3 linked regions of the Homo sapiens genome follow. The protein of the gene in region 1 purifies or fractionates together with the protein of each later gene. This does not show direct contact. Each region holds a gene or a part of one and is shown on either strand. Other genes may lie near its edges. The genes, in order: USP45, SRBD1 and TMOD3.

Region 1 (3,654 bases):
TCAAGATACTTGACTGTGTCATCACCACTCTATGTGCTGTCCATTTATAGCAACACCCTCTGCCTTGCGTCCATTGCTCCCTACAACCATGAATCTCTTCTCATTCTATAATTATGTTATTTCATGAACATTATATAAATGGAATTATATAGCATATATCTTTTGAGTTATTTTGTGTGTTCAATCTCTGTGCTTTTTAGTTAACAGCATTTAATACTTTTGAGGTTTGCTCAGTAATGGTAGCACTTTGGTGTAGCAAAGAAAATGTTGAGATTTTGTTTTATCTTATTCAGTAGGTTTAACTTGCCAACATGTAAGTCATGCTATCAGCGTGAATCATGTAAAGAGAGCAATAGCTGAGAATCTGTGGTCAGTTTGCTCAGAATGTTTAAAAGAAAGAAGATTCTATGATGGGCAGCTAGTACTTACTTCTGATATTTGGTTGTGCCTCAAGTGTGGCTTCCAGGTAAGAAAAGTATTATTTATATGTGAGTTTGTCTGAAATGTTTTCCTTAAATGCTTATTGTGAGTTGGACTGTTGGTCATGCATAGGAGTTAAGATAAATTTATTCCAATTTAGATAGAAATTTTCCAGGAATGAACTTAAAAATGATTGTTAAGGTAAAGTAAAAGGTATGCTATGTTCAGAAAGTAATCAGGTGTGGTTTATAAATACTTGCAGAGGTAATTCAACCTATTTGCAGTAGTTCCCATATCTGGACCAGTCTTTACCTTTTGTATTTACTTAGGAAATGGATCTACCTTTCAGATTAATTTTTTTCTCTCTCAAAACAGATTATTCTGCTGCTTTTGCAAAGTAATTTAAAATCTTAAAGTTTAAAAGTTATTGATATCTGTAATAAAGGAATTTTTTTAATGAAATTAAAAGTATATACTTTTTTAAAAAAATAAGAGAAATCTTTATTATTTCACACAAAATGTCCAGAAGTAAGGCCACTTCAGGATTAGTTAATTTAATGGAAAGAACATTAAAAACTGAGGTTTATTCTGTTTTCTGCTGTGCCATCCTCAACCTCATGGTTGTGTTCCTCTTAAAAAACAAACAAAAAAAAAGCCTTCTGGAAAGATTCAGCGGATTTGACTTCCCCTCATGTTGCATTAACCAGAATTGCATCTCATTTCTTTACTTACCTAGTGAGGGAAATCGCTATGATTGGTCTGTGTCTCAGTAGTTCTCAGTAGGCTGGGGTGAAGTTGTGTACGGGATTGGGAAATGTGTGTTTGCAGAAGGGCACCACTGGCCTGCCAGGATGCTGGGTGTTCCACAGTGTGCACATTTTTAAATGATAGGGAAATTAACTTTGCCCATGATTGTTTTAGGTAAATACTGTATATTGAGCATGTTAGCCTGTTGGCAAGAAATTAAATTTAATGAGAATCCATATTACTTTTTTGAAACTTTCTCCTCTGGCCTGAAATTAAAAACAAAACTTTTCAGTATAAGTGTGAGTATAATTTAAGTTTTGATTAATTTGAAACAAACATTTGTAAGTCATACAAAATAAAATTCTGTTCATCTTCAGGGATGTGGTAAAAACTCAGAAAGCCAACATTCATTGAAGCACTTTAAGAGTTCCAGAACAGAGCCCCATTGTATTATAATTAATCTGAGCACATGGATTATATGGTAAGTTAAATTTTGTTAGTTCTTGTGTCCACTAACCACAGCCCCCCAATTTTTTTTTTTCTTTAAGCTTTTAAGGTAAAATATTTAAAGATGTTCTATCAGCTTATGGTTTTTTAACCTGAACACAATCTATGGGATACTTCAAGAAAATTAATATTACCTGTGAATATAAAATTTAAATTGGAAAAATTTTAACTATCTCTCTACTTTTTGTTGTTGTTGAGACAGAGTCTCACTCTGTCGCCAAGGCTGGAGTGCAGTGGCGTGATCTCAGCTCCCTGCAATCTCTGCCTCGTGGGTTGAAGCAATTCTCCTGCCTCAGCCTCCTGAGTAGCTGGGACCACAGGCGCATGCCGCCATGCCTGCCTAATTTTATGTATTTTAGTAGAGACAGGGTTTCACCATGTTGCCCAGGCTGGTCTTTGAACTCCTGAGCTCAGGCAATATGCCCTCCTTGGCCTCCCCAAGTGCTAGGATTACAGGCGTGAGCCACTGCGCCCAGCCTTTCTACTTTTCTCTATCATTTTCCTTGTATAATGTAAAGAAAAATTCTTTTTAGTTGATTTTTTTGGTAGTGAACTTGCTAATACAGAATTCTAGTGTTGTAGAGAAGGAAGATACTTCAAGCAGTCAGGTCATTTTCTGAAGGGAGAGGGAAGAGCTGGGCATAAGTAGCTTGTAAAAACTTTTCAGGTCATTCTGCTGTTTAATCCTGGTTGAGAATCTAGTCCAGTTTCCTATGTTACCTGTAAGGAAACTATGTAATATTTACCTTTTTGTGGTTATGAAGTAAAAATCCAGGTACTAAAACAAGTTTTTTGTGGGGCGTGATGGCTCACACCTGTAATTCCAGCACTTAGGGAGGCTGAGGTGGGCGGATCACTTGAGGTCAGCAGTTTGAGACCAGCCTGGCCAATATGGTGAAACCCCGTCTCTACGAAAGATACAAAAATTAGCTGGGCATGGTGGCGCACGCCTGTAGTCCCAGCTGCTCAGGAGGTTGAGGCAGGAGAATCGCTTGAACCTGGGAGATGGAGGTTGCCACTGCACTCCAGCCTGGGTGATAGAGTGACACTCCGTTTCAAAAAAACCAAAAACAAGTTTTTTTATTTTCTAGTTTCTTATTAGCATATCACACTGTTTTGGTAGTATAAATGGACACTATGTTGAAATGCTTCCTCTGTGTTTTACAATAATTTTCCAACTTGAATCTATGGACTCCTAAGGGTTCCTTGAATGAATTTTCAGGAGTCTCAGATTTTCTTTAACATAAAAATATTTTGTCTAAAATTAATATAAGGGTATTTTGGCTCACAGAAGAGGTCATCATCTTTAATACAGCCAGAAGGGTTGGGCACCAGCTGCATTTGTGTTTTTATTTGTTGTTGTGAGTCCCAAGTAGTAGTACTGGGGAGAATGACGAAAGAACAGAGGGAACTTAATATATAAATGATGCATTGGAACCAATGGAGACAGCAATGGTGCCATAGTGTGGCAGTTCAATAAGGATTTCACTTTAGTGGTCTCAAACTCTAGGTGCATCAGAATCTCAGGGAGATCTTGTTATGACAGATTGCAGGATCCCAGTCTTAGAAATTCTAATTTAGTAGTTCTGGGGTGGAGGAGCCAGAGAATTTGCATTTAACAAGCTCCCAAGTGTTGCCAGTGCTGCTGGTCTGTAGACCACAGTTTAAGAATTACTGAATTAGAAAAAGGTGGGTAAGAAGATTGTGAACATGTAATGTAGCATTGGTGTAATGCATTATGTTTTTTTTTTTTTTTTTTTTGAGATGGAATCTCACTCTGTCACCCAGGCTGGAGTGCAGTGGCGTGATCTCGGCTCACTGCAACCTCTGCCTCCTGGGCTGGGAGTAGCTGGAATTACAGGTGCCCGCCACCACGCCCTGCTAATTTTTGTATTTTTAGTAGAGTTGGTATTTCACCATATTGGCCAGGCCAGTCTCGAACTCCCAACCTCAAGTGATCCTCCCGCCTTGGCCTCCCAA
Region 2 (3,654 bases), on another chromosome or scaffold:
GAGTCCATGCTCATCAAGTAAATTTCTGATTACTACTTAATTCCCTATTCAGATTAGGCTCCAAGGAGAACGAAATGCTGGCCATAAGAATTTCAAGTCCTTAAGATTATTATTTTAAACTATTAAATATTAAACCAGCACTCTGGTTGTATTTATCTCTCTTGTGAACACAACTGATGTAAAAACACCCAAGAGAGATATATCTGTTCCCAAAATGTTGACAAAATCATGTTCCTAACTTAGAAACCCAGTTCCATCACTTACTATCTGTACACCGTGAGCAAGTCACTTAACATCTTTCTTCAGCTTTCTCATCTATAAAATCAGCATAAAAGCACTTGCCTCAATGGTTGTTATAAAGATTAAGATCATTTAAATGAAATGTTGAGCACATTGCCTGGCTAATGGTAAGCACTCAACTATTTGCTAATGCCACCATCATTACCAGCACTACCACACCCAGACCAACTCCTAGGAGAGGGAAAAGGGAATAGACAAAGAAACACAGTACAGACCCAAAAATTAAGACCCAGGGTAGGGGATGCCATTGCTGGCAGTTTTTGTCATTTACATGCCTTGTCCTACTCTGTAGAATAAGAAAATAACATCACCAATCAGGAAGACACTACAGAGTTCCCTCTATCCAGCTGTAGCACCTACCAGCTCCTCCTTAACAACAACGACTTCTGAGCCATCACTGATCTGTGGGGCATTCTTCTTCACCCGAGGCATCCTCTTTGGTTTGGATTCCTTGGGAGGGGGCTGTTTACGGCTTCTGGGAACTTTCTTTTGGGGCTCCCAGGCACTATCTTCCTTGTCATCTTCTTCAGAGGCAGATGATCTAGAAGTAAATCAACAGAATAATCTCCAGGAAAAATAAAAGCAAATGTCAAAGGTAAAAAAGAGATGCAAGATTCTTGAAAAAATGATAAAGTAGGAGGTGTTTAATATAAAATGGAGTGATTGAGTACAGGCTGTGAACAGTTATTGCTAAGAATTGAACCAACAGAGTTGATGACGGACCAGTATAAAAATACCGCAGTATGCTGTAAATCACAGCTCTGTCTCTCCATTCTCTTCTCACCTAACTGACAAACACATACACACATTCATTCAAGACATAGAAAATCATTTATTACCTTAAGTAATTTACTGGGTCATGTCAAACTATAGTCAATGTGAGCTTTTCAATTTTAACAGTGAAAAGCACTTAAATAAGTTCCCAACTACTAATCAAATTCATTTAAATTGTATTAAGTTATTCAAATCAATGAAAGGATTGAGAAATGGCTCTAGGAAACACACTAAATTACATTAAAAGCCAGCACCAAGACCCTTCCAACTGCTTTAATTAACCCTTTTTTCCTTTCACAGAATGGATTTCTTTCCTGATTAGATTGGATCAGGTGCGACTATAGTACTTTTCTAACAACGAAGAATCAAACTCACAGCAAGAGCAGAGAAAAAGCAGCCATGGGAACTCTTTTAAAGGACCATCATGCTCCTGCCAACCCAGTTAATTCCATTTCTACTCTAATGTAAAAGGTCAATATTAGTGAGACTTCCTTTACTGAGATGAGTGAATAGGGAAGTCTGGGTTTTTTAATGTTAAGTTCTTGCTGGGGGCAAAAACCTGACTGGATGACTTCTTAGCTAAATTATGCTCTAGAAGAGAATAATTATGATAGGTCAAACTACTGGTGTTCTCTTCAGAGGTACCACTAAGCCTGGTAAGGAAAAACAAACAATCAAACAAAAAACAGGAATAATCAGAATAACATAACAGCAGTGGAACTGAAAGAAACTATAATTAGAAAACCAATGAAATAGAAAACTAGGGTTCCACTCCTCATACTATCATCAAACTGAGCAGGATGACTTCTTCCCTCCTTAGTCTCATCACCTATCAACCAGGATTACTGACTAACCCTATTTCACAAAGGAATATCACCAAGATTAAAGGCCCTTTAGTTATTATGAACAAAACACAAGCACAGATACCGTTGTGTTATACATGATATAGTTCTAAGGCAGCTAGTCAACTCTCCTTCCCAATCACTTGAGCTCTCAGGAGCATCTGGCACTCACCCCTTAGAGCATATCCCTTACATACAGGAACCCCAGCCCTTGGTTTTCATACTACTTCCTGGCAGCTTCTCTTTAGCCCCTTTGACTCCTCTTCTCCCTAACCTCTAAATGCTGGAATCCCTCGAGGCTTAGTCCTCAGCCCTCTATGCTCTCTTGCCAGGTAATCTTGTATTTTCTCGATACAGGAATCTATATTTTATTTTTATTTATTTATTTAGAGACAGAGTCTCCCTCTGTCACACAGGCTGGAGTGCAGTGACGTGATCTCGGTTCACTGCAACCTCCACCTCCTGGGTTCAAGTGATTCTCACGTCTCAGTCCCCCAGGTAGCTGGGATTATAGGCACGTGCCACCATGCCTGGCTAATTTTTGTATTTTTAGTAGAGCCGGGTTTCACTATGATGGCCAGGCTAGACTCCGGACTCCTGGCCTCAAGTGATCAGCCCGACGTGGCCTCCCAAAGCACTGGGATTACAGGTGTGAGCCACCACACCCAGCTGGGAATCTCAATTTTATATAGTATCTCCAACTCGACCTTCCCCGCTTGAGCTCAAGACTTGTATATCCACTTTCACCTGAATGTCCAGCAATCACATCAAACTTACCAAGTCCAAAACTGAATTCCCGATTCCACCACTCTCACACCTGTTCCTCTTCCAGTCTTTCCAAAATGTCTGTCATTCTTTCATACCCCAAATCCAATCCACCACCATGTCCTGTCCACTCTACCTTCAAAATATATCCCAAATTAGACCATTTCTCATCACTTTCACATCTAGAATCCTATGCTTCTACAATAATCTCCTTAACTCATTTCCCCTACTTCCAGTTTTGCCCGCTATAGTCTATTCTCCACCAAGAAACCAGAATATTTTACAAATATAAACCCAGGTCATGTAACATCCCAACCCAAAACCTTCCAGTGGCCTCCCAACCCACTTCAAATAAAATTCTAATACCAGGGAAGATCAAGTTGGAGATACTGTATAAAATTGAGATTTTTATATTGAGCCATAAGACAAGATCAGCTACTAACAGGGAGGGGAGAGGGGAAGGGGGGTGGAGGAAGGGGAGGGCTTAGAATTAAGCCTTGAGGGATTCCAACATTTAGAGGGTGGTGAGAAGAGAAGTTAAAGGGACTAAGGAGAAGGATCTAAGCCTATTAGATCCAGATCCTACTCATTACAATCTCATTTCTTACTACTCTCTGCCTCATGTCTCTAGACTGGCCACACTGGTCTTCTTGCTGTTCCCTGAACACACCAAACTTATTCCTGCCTCAGGGTCTTTGCACTTGCTGCTTTCTCTATTTGGAACACCCATCCCCAAGATCTTTGCAAGCTGCACCCCCAAATCTCATCTAGATCTCTTGCCACATCTTCCGCAATAACTTTCTGACTACTCTATCCAAAATGCCCCCCGACTGCAACCACTCACTATGCTCTCTATCCCCTGCCCTGTTTTATTTTTCTTTATAGTACTTATTACTATAAATATTACCAGTCATTTACTTAACAAATATCTTCAGAGCACCTAATATGACTCTAAAGCAGAGATTCTCAACTG
Region 3 (3,654 bases), on another chromosome or scaffold:
GGAGAATGGCGTGAACCTGGGAGGCGGAGCTTGCAGTGAGCCGAGATCGTGCCACTGCACTCCAGCCTGGGCGACAGAGCAAGACTCTGTCTCAAAAAAAAAAAAAAAAAAAAAAATACAAAAATTAGCTGGGCACGGCGCGCACGCCTGTAGTCCCAGCTACTCGGGAGGCTGAGGGAGGAGAATCACTTGAACCTGGGAGGCGGAGGTTGCAGTGTGCCGAGATGGCGCCACTGCACTCCTGCCTCGCAACACAGCGAGGCTCCGTCTCAAAAAAAATCAACAACAAAAAACCTGGGTGAGAAATATAATTATTCTCTATTTTATATATTTCTATATCCACATTCTATCATATAAAATTGAATTTCTATCTGGGTCCGCTTGATTAAAAGGGCAAAAAACTTTCCGATAATGTTGAAATCTTTGTTTCAATAGTTCCAAGGACTGATCTGTAACTGAGAACAAATTGTTTGTTGTAGAAAACTGGTCACTTAAAACTATGAAATACGCTTGTCACAGGAAGCTGATTTTACCCATTGACCCAATCATCACAACCTCACTTTAATTGAACTTGAATTCAATCAGTATATAAAGGACCATGCAGATTTTAGAAACAAAGGCCAAATAACTTCTCTGTTAGAATTTATTCTTAAGAGGGAAAGAAGTTCCCCCAATACGTTAGCTTGTGATAGAACTCAGAAACTTGATCGATACTATGTCTTACCTAAGTCATTGTTTTTTGTTATAGCATTAGCTGCTCTGGTTCGTGGTCCCTGCTGTGTAAACTGATATCCAAATTTAAGGATATTTGTATTTTCCTCAAGCATCTTGGCCATTTCCAATTCTACAGCTGTCCCCAACTGCTGCCTCTGGAGTAATTAGAAAAAAAGAACAATATTAATAAACTAGATCAAAATACTTTTCAAGGTAAATTAAGACATTCAGGCACATGCTAATTCTTTGATCTCTTTAAATGTTCCCAATTCCTACAACATATACATAGTTCAGTAGTTCCAAGTACTGATTTGTAACTGAGAACAAATTGTTTGTTGTAGAAAACTGGTCACTTAAAGCTATGAAATGTTTGTCACAGGAAGGGGATTTTACCCATTGACCCAATCATCACCACAGCCTCACTGGAACTTTATACACACACACACACACACACACACACACACACACACACACTAAACTTTTTAAAGTTCAGTAATATGATCATATAGACATCAAAAAAGTGTGAATTACTATAATGACATATCACTTCATACCCACTAGGATAAGTATAATAAAAAAGATAGATAATAACAAGTGTTGGCAAGAATGTGGAAAAATGGGGACATTGCTGAGAGGAATGTAAAATGGTACAGCTACTGTGGAAAACTGGCTGCTGCTCAAAAAGTTAAACATAGAGTTACCATGTGACCCAGCAATACACTCCTAGCTATATACTGAAGAGAAATGAAAATCTATGTCCATGTTAGAGTTTGTAATGAATGTTCACAGCAGCATTATTTCTAGTGGCCCGTATGTGGACACACCCCAAATGGAATAGAATATTATTCAGTCATAAAAGAATGAGGTCCTGATGTATGCTACAATACAGATGAACCTCCAGAACATTATGCCAGGTGAAAGAAGCCAGGCACAAAAAGATCAAATATTGTTTGATTCCACAGATATAAGCTGTCCAGAATAGGCAAATCCTAAGAAACAGAAAGTGGATGAGTGATTGCCAGAGCCTGGTGAGAGGGGTGAATGGGGAGTGACTGCTAATGGGTATGGGGTTTCTTTTTGGGGTAATGAAAATGTTCTGGAATTAGTGGTAATGGCTGCAAAACTCTACAAATATACTAAAAACCATTTAGCTGTATACTTTAAGAAAATGAATTTTACTGTATGTAATTATATCTCAATAAAAAAATGAAAAACATGGATTATGAAGCACTGGGTTAAATTTTAAGACATAATCCTCTTTTCCACCTTCATAGTTTACAAAATGTATTTACTTTGAAGGACTGAAGGAGACATTTAACAAATATTTTTTCAAATAAATGGAGTTATTTTTTCAAATAAAAAAATTAATAGCTACTCTGGATGGAAACATTTCTAACATGTATCTCTCTGCCTTTTACAAAAACCCTACAATGTGGACCTTGCCAGCACAGAGCTGAAAAATTGGAAGGTGGACTAGGTCACATGTAAGAGTCCTCTCAGTTCAAACTAGATAGCCATCTAAATTCTCTTAAAATGATCTAGGGAGAGTATACACCTTTACATTGTATACACTGTTATATACACTGAGTTAATATTCTAGATACCCCAAATGTCAGCTCTCCTTTCAGCCCAGCATCTTCCAACAGGGATCCCTGACAGCCCGCCTCCCATCCCCATCCTGAGTCGCCAAGCCCTACACAGCAGCGTGGGCTGTAGCTTCCTCGACGTTATTATTGTAGAACATTGACCTGATTGTCAATCTTGAGCTCTGCCAGGGTTTCATTATCTCTTAACGCATCAATCAGTGCCAGAATCCCAACTCCCGTGATAAAGTTGGACTCCACATTTAAGCTCTTCAAAGTTTTGTTCACTTTCAGCATTTCTGCAAAAGCCTAGAAATTAGAGAAAATATTAAGAGATTAAAATTTGATACAGTACCTACTACATATTGTACATGCCATAAATAAATACATTAATTAACTGCCTTAATGTTTGTCATTAGTTGTTTCAGTTTGACACAGTAGCCCATAGCTCTCACATGTACAGTTGTCCCTCAGTATTTGTTGGGGGTTGGTTCCAGGACCATCTGCAGATACCAAAATCTTCAGATGCTCAAGTGCCTTATAGAAAATGGCATAGTATTTGCATATAACCTTCACACATGCTCCTGTATACTTTTCATTACCTCTAGGTTACTTAATATACCTAATACAATGCCTACACATCACTTCATTTTTGTGGATTCAACATAGTACCTGGCATACAGCAAATTCAGATTTTGCTTTTGGAAATTCATAGAATTTTTTTCCAAATATTTTTGATCTGAAGTTGGTTGAACCCATGGATGACTGTATCTACTTTTCTTTCTTTTTTTTTTTTTTGAGACAGGGTCTTGCCCTGTCACCCAGGCTGGAGTGCAGTGGCAGGATCACAGCTCACTGCAACCTCTGCCTCCTGGGCTCAATTGATCTTCCCACCTCAGCTTCCTGAGTAGCTGAGACTACAGTTGTGTGCCACCATGCCCGGCTAATTTTTGTATTTTTTGTAGAGATGGGGTTTCACCATGTTGCCCAGGCTGGTCTCAAACTCCTGGGCTCAAGCAATCCACCCACCTCGGCTTCCCCAAGTGCTGGGATTACAGGTGTGAGCCACTACACCTGGCCTGTACCTATTTTTCATATGTACCCAGTCATAATCTTTTGATTTTTTGGTCACATGTAATTCCCCGTTGGTGACATTCTCTACTCCTCATTCCCTACTTCATGCTTCTTTCTTCTGTCTCTCTCACTCTTTCAGTTTCTGTGTTAGACCAACTTCATCAATGTCGCTGTAACATCTTTTCTTATTTGGGTCTTGCTGTAGCTGGATCATGTGAAGCCAAAATGAGGGTAAATTATGTACTAATTTCCAAGGCAGGGGCCAAAAGAAATGGTCAAGGCA

Evidence for each region.
Region 2: the proteins of USP45 (region 1) and SRBD1 purify together in Homo sapiens (affinity purification with mass spectrometry; one large-scale study listed by BioGRID and IntAct). This does not show direct contact.
Region 3: the proteins of USP45 (region 1) and TMOD3 purify together in Homo sapiens (affinity purification with mass spectrometry; one large-scale study listed by BioGRID and IntAct). This does not show direct contact.

The regions. Positions count from the first base shown.
Region 1 is NC_000006.12:99,505,422-99,509,075, reverse strand, and holds part of USP45 (ubiquitin carboxyl-terminal hydrolase 45), read left to right. Parts: intron 1-293; coding exon 294-466; intron 467-1,544; coding exon 1,545-1,648; intron 1,649-3,654. UniProt on the Homo sapiens protein: Catalyzes the deubiquitination of SPDL1. Plays a role in the repair of UV-induced DNA damage via deubiquitination of ERCC1, promoting its recruitment to DNA damage sites. May be involved in the maintenance of photoreceptor function.
Region 2 is NC_000002.12:45,601,243-45,604,896, forward strand, and holds part of SRBD1 (S1 RNA-binding domain-containing protein 1), read right to left. Parts: intron 842-3,654; coding exon 661-841; intron 1-660.
Region 3 is NC_000015.10:51,899,107-51,902,760, reverse strand, and holds part of TMOD3 (tropomodulin-3), read right to left. Parts: intron 2,607-3,654; coding exon 2,463-2,606; intron 870-2,462; coding exon 725-869; intron 1-724. UniProt on the Homo sapiens protein: Blocks the elongation and depolymerization of the actin filaments at the pointed end. The Tmod/TM complex contributes to the formation of the short actin protofilament, which in turn defines the geometry of the membrane skeleton.